Linked DNA regions of Homo sapiens. The protein of the gene in region 1 purifies or fractionates together with the protein of each later gene. This does not show direct contact. Each region holds a gene or a part of one and is shown in the gene's direction. Other genes may lie near its edges.

Region 1 (3,815 bases):
GAAGACAAACATGACACTGCCCTGATAGAGTCTTGTATCATCCTTAAAAGTGCTTACATTCCCATGTGTTCTGTATAACGGTAATGTTTATATATGGTCTGGCTATTCTTGAATTTATCATTTTAAAAGGATTCAAAAATAGAATCCATTAGTGGTTACTTAATGTTTTTAGTTTTTGTTTAAAGAGTCTTTGCTTAAGTCCTGGGACTTCTTTGAACTTCTTATTTTAAGTTAATGAAATTAGAAGTCACCTTTAAATTTCACCTGAATTAATTTCTTGTTTACATTTTATAAACATTGAAGATACTAGCGTTAACACTGAAACAGTGAAAATTGTTTTCCTTAATGTTTTAAATGGCCATTTCAGAAGATCATATAAGCCTTCTCTCTTTTAGTAGCTTCACTTAACTAAATAAGTCTATCCTATATTTTAGGTATCTTCTAAATTTTAAGATATTTTGCAAAGTTCTAAAAACAAAAACAAGATTATCTTGTTTGTGACTAACCTTGTTAAGCTTTTAAATATGTTAGAAATCAAATAACTTAAGGTCTTCATGTGAACTCTACATTTTTCTGCTTTTTAAAAAATAGCCATTATCCTAAAGCAAACAAAAATCCTGTTATTAACATCCAAGCCAGAGCAGTCATGAATAGTTTTATTTGCGAACAAATAAGCTCACTCAAATCACATTAAAAATCACTCAAGGAGAATAATTTATAGGTATTGTTTTTCTACCTTTAATTTTTATTTTTCTATCTTTCAATTTCTATTTGTTCCTTTCCTAAGCATAAGTGCTCTTTTGGAGGTTTAATCAGTCAACCAGTATTTATTGGAAGTATTTTGTATGGAAGGCACTGAGCAAGCTGTTGTGAGATTCCTAAAGTATTTTAAGATGAGGTTTCTGCCCTATCTACTTAGAGAGGTAAGACATATTTACATCAACCCATAACTAATGATTCTAGATGATAAATGAGAAGTGCTAGATCATTTTTAAAAGTTTGTTTTACATACCATATAGATAAGTATTTTATTCTTCCTTTCCTTCCTGCCCTATTTAATACATAAGTAAAATTGTGGTCAGGAGAGTAAAGTAAGCTTTCAAGCTTTCTTCCTGTATGAAGAACATTATTGAGTTCCTGTTATTTTCTGTGCCAAACACTTCGCTATATTCTTTAAAATAATCTCATTTAATCCTTATAATAACTTTGTGAGGTAGGCATTATTCTCATTTTATCAGGAAATGGACTTAGAGGGCTGAAGTAACTTGTTGAAGGTCACCCTGCTAATTAGTAACGGAGCCAGGATTCCAATATAGGCCTCCTAGTTTGGTGCTTTTTCTTTTCTTTTCTTTTTTTCTTTTTTTTTTTTTTTGAGTTGGAGTCTCACTCTGTCACCCAGGCTGGGGTACAGTGGCGCCATCTCGGCTCATTGCAACCTGTGCCTCCCAAGTTCAAGCGATTCTTCTGCCTCAGCCTCCTAAGTAGCTGGGACTACAGGCGTGTGCCACCATGCCTGGCTAATTTTTGTATTTTTAGTAGAGATGGGGTTTCGCCATGTTGGGCAGGCTGGTCTTGAACCCCTGACCTCAAGCAATCCACCTGCCTCGGCCTCCCAGAGTGCTGGGATTACAGGTGTGAGCCACCGCACCTCGCCTGATTTGGTGCTTTTTCTTTGTTACTCTGTTCCACTGTGGTTCTGTTTGGTGTTGATGGAAAAAGCCATGCAAAGGAAGAACGATACTAAAAATTATAATTTTGAAAAGCAAAAGCCAAAAGGAGGAAGGGACCTTTATCCCATAGTATGAGATATTAAATGTTCTAATAGACTCTTAATAGGTTGCTTATGTATGTAAGTAACGCATCATTACTTGAGTCTATTGCCTTAACTAAGGAACATTTTAAAAGATCGTGTCTTAAAGAAGCTGGGTATAGTGGCACACGCCTGTGATCCCAGCTGCTCTGTAGGTTGAGGCAGAAGGATCACTTGATCCCAGGAATTTGAGGCTGCAGTGAACCATGACCACACCACTGGACTCTAGCCTGGACAACAGAAGGCGTCTCTGTCTCTAAAAAAAATTTTGTTATTTTATTTTTTAGAAAGATCCTATCTTTTACTAAATCTTAAATGTGAAAGTCTGGAATCCAGTGATAATAATCTTATGTTCTTATGTTTTAAAATGTGCTATGTTTTATGAATAATGGAATATTCTGTTACTACTAATAAAATTAATCATCAGTAACAGTAGTGAAACTTCAGATGGGATTAAAACCTACTTAATCTTAATATCCAAAGTATTAAAGAACTCAATATTTTAAATGTATTTAATTAGATCTCTGGCATGCTTAGAAAGACCAGGTGTTTGTTTCAAACTCCTTTCTAGTCCATAACCTTCATGATACTCTGCTATACATCTTCTGTCAATATTCTCATTAGTTAAGTATCAACTGCAGGCTTATATCTGTGCTTTGTTTTGTCAATACATCCTGGAAACTGACAGCTTTTTTGAAACTGAAATACATGTGGGGCAAAGCAGCATAAAATATGTAAGTAAACAAGACGTTCTCCTTGCTCACAGCAGCAGCCCCAAACCTGTTTCTCCTGGTAGGCTAAAGCCCTGGCCGCTTGTCTGACTCAACCTCCAGGAAATGAGTAACTGCTTCCTAGTGCCTCTACTCTGCTCCAAGCAGTAGGCATTCTTGCTGTTTCTTTAATATACTTTGTTGGTGAAGCTCATGGAACAGTGGTGTTCTTATGTAAGATCTACCAGTCAATTAAATATTAAAATACAGTTGTCTACAGCCAGGTGTTTTCAGTGTCTCCTTTACAGATGAATGGAAAAGTCATTTATATTTTGTCTTTGTTTTCAGCGTTCTTACTTCCGTACTCTTCTCATGTATGGGTTCCACTTTCTGGTGTGGTTCCTTTGTGTCAAAGGAATCAGGGACACACAGTGTGGGTTCAAATTATTTACTCGAGAAGCAGCTTCACGGACGTTTTCATCTCTACACGTTGAACGATGGTAGGTTTCTGACTGGAATGTATCCAGTCTGTCTTATGACCCAGCCATCTTCTAGGTAATGAGAAACAGCCCTGTATATTTATAATGAACATGTAGATTTAAACAAAATTGACAATAATGTATGTAAACTTGATCTTGCCTTTATACTTTTCCTGAGTTGGATCTTATTTTGAAAATACACAAACCCAACAATATGGTATAAAGTTATGTGTGTTCACCTTAATTGTAGACAGTAGAAATTGAGTGGCCTGAAAACATTTTTTTTCCTTTGAAGAAAAAAGAAAAAGCTCAGAAACATCAAAACAGAATAGGGCACCCATTTTCTCTTTTCTTCCTTCTACGGAAGATAAGGTGTCTTTCCTAAGACCGATCTTTTGACCTCTACATCTCCTTCCACCTTGTCAAAACCTAATCCTGTCCATGTATTTCATCTCTTGTGTATTCAGCCTTTTCCCTTCCATCACATCTTTCCCAGAACCCTTTCCATTGACCCTGCTGTGCCCTTCCAGCTCTAGCCCTGTCTCCTTCACAAGCAACCTTCTCTTGAAAAAGTGTTTTATATTCACTGGCTTTGTTTTCTTGCTTCCCACTCACTCCTCACCCCACCTTCTTCATATGGATTTTCTTCCATGCCTCATCATTTTTTTTTTTTTTTGAGTTTCGCTCTTGTTGCCCAGGATGGAGTACAATGGCAGGATTTCAGCTCACTGCAACCTCCGCCTCCCGCGTTCAAGTGATTCTCCTGCCTCAGCCTCCCAAGTAGCTGGGATTACAGGTGGGCGCTACCACACCCAG
Region 2 (3,815 bases), on another chromosome or scaffold:
CGTGACCCGCCCCGGGAGCACCCCTACCGCAGCAGTTTTATCAACGTGACTCTGGAGGCCGTGCTGCACTCCGGCTTCCCCCAGCACCAGGTGAGGCCCTGCAACGCAGCTCTGCCCCCGGGAGCCCTGGCCTGGCTAGAGCCCTGCTGCTGCATAGCCTTTCCCTGTTGCACTCCGGACTTCAGCTTTCCCATTTGTAAAATGGGGATCACACACTGCTCACTTCCCTGGCAGGGTCATCATGGGACAAGAGGGGAACAAGAAAACACTTTAAAATGTATAAAGGTCCAGGCGGTCAAGTTATTTCAGTGAAGTGTTGCCCTGTCGTTTGGTGTAATAATCTGGGACCAGAGAAATCTGACATCAGTTTAGGACGGCACACTAGGTGCTAGTGGCCATGTGCAGAGTAGTGGCTGTTTGGGTTTTCCCTCCCGTACTGACAGCAGGCCAGAAGCGAAGTTTCCTGAGTTGCTGCCAGTGCACTTTGCAGCCTTGGCTGGGACTGAGTCCTGCCCTGCTAATGACTTCATCTAAGCTTTCACCGCCTGCCAGGTCCTGTCTCTTAACCCCACAGGTGCTCTAGGAGGAGTAGGTACTCTTACGCATCGTGCAGAAGAGAAGTCTGAGGCTGCCTCTCTTCTGCCTGCAGGTCATGTGGCTGCCTAGCAGGCAGAGGCCCCTGGTGCGGAAGGTGGCTCCCGGCTTCCAACAGACATCAGGCTCCAAGGAGGCAGTCGCCAGCCTGCGGAGAGGCCACATCCAGCGGCTGAACCTGCGCTACACTCAGGTGTCCCGCCAGGAGCTCAGGTGCCTGCCCTGCCCTGGGCTCCTCCAGGAGAGGGTGGGACTGAGTCTCTCCCAGTCCTGCCACCACCACCCCCCAACACACACACACACACACACACACACGGTCGGGCAGAGGGATGGGCACACAGAGGAATCAGGCACACATGGTTCAAAGACAAGAGGGTGAGCGTGTCGGGCAGACCCGGGCTTGTCCCGGAGCTTGGCCCTCTGGAGCCAATGTTCCTTGCCCCGGGCATGGCTGTGAGGTCGTGAACAGGACGTGCTTTACCAGCCCCGACACTGGGCCTGGAGCTGCCAGGGTCCGCATGCTGACCTGCCTCTCCCCTGCCCCACAGGGACTACGCGTCCTGGAACCTGAGTGTGAACCTCTACACAGTCAACGCACCGTGGCTCTTCTCCCTGCTGTGGTGTGCGGGGGTCCCATCCGTCACCTCTGACAACTCCCACGCCCTGTCCCAGGTGCCTTCCCCCCTCTGGATCATGGTGAGTTGGGGGGCAGAGGGCCCCTGGGGGGCAGTGCTGGAGCTGCCTATAGCCTGCCCTGACCACTCGGCAAGCTCTGTGCTTGGAGCTGTCCCTGGGAGGTCTCTAGCATGGTGGGGAGTCCATGGTGGGCGTGCAGGCTTGAGGCATGAGGGTTTCATGGCATCTGGGATCTGCACTAAGGTGCTGGGAGGACCCTGGGCCTCATCCACAGGGAGAAAAGCATCACTAAGGGCTCTAAAGAAGTAAAGAGCTGCTTGGGTTTCTTTGCTTTGGAGGGTAACAAGGACAGGAATAGGAAGCATTGACCGGGCGTGGGGCTCACGCCTATAATCCCAGCATTTTGGGAAGCAGAGGCAGGATGATCACTGGAGCCCAGGGGTACAAGACTAACCTGGGCAACCCTGTCTCTACAAAAAAAAATAATAATAATTAATTAATTTGCTGGCCAAGGTGGCACACGCCTGTAGTCCTAGCTACTCGGTAGGCTGAAGTGGGAGGATTGCTTGAGCCCAGCAGGTCAAAGCTGCAGTGAGCTGTGATCACTCCAGCCTGGATGACAAAGTGAGATCCTGTCTCAAAAAATAAAAATAAAAAAGAATAGGAAACAATTAAAATCTGCTCAGAGAACAGCAAATAAAGCAATATTTTAGCTGGTTGACTGGGCACCTGCAGATAGGTGGTGGCTCCACTGTCACCCTGAGCATGCAGAAGGCAGGTGGAGGGTATCCTTATGGCTGAGAGAATGCAGTGCCAATGAATCAGACCTAAGCTGTGGATGGTTCTATGGGAGAGGAGGGTGAAGGGAAGGCAGCCTGGGGAAAGGGTCGAGACCGATGGATGAGAGTCGGCAGCGGGGGGCGGCAAAGCCATTGTCTTTCAGTATCTGGCTCCTGCTTTGAGGACCCTAGACACACAGACCCTGCAGGCCTAGCACACAACCCCTCTGCCCTGAGCACCATACAGTCCCCTCCTACCCTGAGAGTGCACACGTGTGCACACACACGCCCCGGCCCCCAGGCCCACAGCGCCTGGAGCCTACACCTGCAAAATGTCATCTTCAGCCCCCAGACCCTCTCAGGGTCCTCCCTTGCCCTTCCCCAGTGGCCATGTGGGGTCCTTTGGTCCACGGACCCTCAGTCTGGAGCCTCAGTCTGGACTGGCCATGACTGGAAGTTGGCCTCGGGCCGTCTGTCCACAGCCCCCGGACGAGTACTGTCTCATGTGGGTCACTGCCGACCTGGTCTCCTTCACCCTCATCGTGGGCATCTTCGTGCTCCAGAAGTGAGTAGGATCTGACCACTTCCGTGGCTGTCCCTACCCTGCAGCAGGCCCAGCCCCCACCCCAGCCAGGTGAACCCTCTCCTGAGCCCTGGGCCTCAGCCAGGAGCAGGCCTGACCAGGGAAGAAGGACGGACTCCGGTGGCCCCATCCTCCCTCAGACAGAGGCTGGGTGACTTCTGGAATGAACATGCAGCTGGGATCCCAGAGCCAAGCTCTGCCTTGGGTGGCTATGTGGGCTTAGGTGAATTTCAGCTCCTCACCGGGCTGGCCTGCTCATCTGTTAGCCAGGGCATGGGTTCCCACCAGCCCTCAGCAAGATAGCTGGGGTGTGCTCGCAGTGGGGAGGTGTGGTTGGTCCCAGGGAGGGTCTAGGGCCAGCCTGGGGCCCCCACCCAGCCAGGAACCAAGGGGCTGGGATTTTATTCTTGACTGATGTTCTCTCTCTGTCCCATCCTGCTCTGATCGGCGCATGTCCCTCCTCTCTCCCCCTCCCCCTCTCTCTGCTGCACTCTGGCATCTCACAGCTATCACTTGATCAGGTAATTCTGGTGTGGTCTTCCTCCTCCTTCTGTTCCTCTTTCTCCCTCTTGCCATCCCTTCTCCAGTTCTGTCTAAAAACCCACCGTGCACCAAGCCCTGTGCCCGGGCCACCTCGCAGACAGCGCGCTCGCCTGAAGCCTCCCTTACCCCCGCAATCCTCTTTTCTGCTCCTCCCGTCCCACTGCCGTGTGTGTCCCTCTGCTCCCTGTTCCCACGGCCGTTTCTGCAGGTGGGGACCAGCGTTTCCTTGACAGCTTCCTGACCTGGCCCCTCTCTGCACCAAAGTGTCTCCCTGGGGGAGGGGACCCTGCCTGGGTACCCCCATCCCCCTGCCTCTGGCACTTACAGGGGCCTTCACCACTTGCCCAGGGCAGACCCTACCAAGTTTCTGCCTCTCTCTTCCCATCTTCTCCCTCCCTGGCTCTGCCTCTCCCACTGTTCACTCTTCCTGTTTACCTTTCTCTGCCTCTCCCATCTCTTTCTCTCTCTTCTTTACATTCTATCTCTAACACCCATCCCTGCTTTGCTCCCCGCAACACACAGCCTTTTCCTCATTCCCCTCAGAGGACCCCACAGTGGCTGAGCTTCCTGTTCTGGATATGCCTGGCCGAGAGACCCTGGCCTGACACTGTCCTTCTGGGTTTCAACATGAATTTCCAGGATGGGACCTAGAGCTTAGGGACCCACGTCTCCCTCCGTCT

The links.
Region 2: the proteins of ALG5 (region 1) and GDPD5 purify together in Homo sapiens (co-immunoprecipitation; one large-scale study listed by IntAct). This does not show direct contact.

What each region holds. Positions count from the first base shown.
Region 1 is NC_000013.11:36,964,780-36,968,594, reverse strand, and holds part of ALG5 (dolichyl-phosphate beta-glucosyltransferase), read left to right. Parts: intron 1-787; exon of another isoform or gene 788-923; intron 924-2,868; coding exon 2,869-3,020; intron 3,021-3,815. UniProt on the Homo sapiens protein: Dolichyl-phosphate beta-glucosyltransferase that operates in the biosynthetic pathway of dolichol-linked oligosaccharides, the glycan precursors employed in protein asparagine (N)-glycosylation.
Region 2 is NC_000011.10:75,438,638-75,442,452, reverse strand, and holds part of GDPD5 (glycerophosphodiester phosphodiesterase domain-containing protein 5), read left to right. Parts: coding exon 1-90; intron 91-649; coding exon 650-807; intron 808-1,142; coding exon 1,143-1,290; intron 1,291-2,491; coding exon 2,492-2,574; intron 2,575-3,815. UniProt on the Homo sapiens protein: Glycerophosphodiester phosphodiesterase that promotes neurite formation and drives spinal motor neuron differentiation.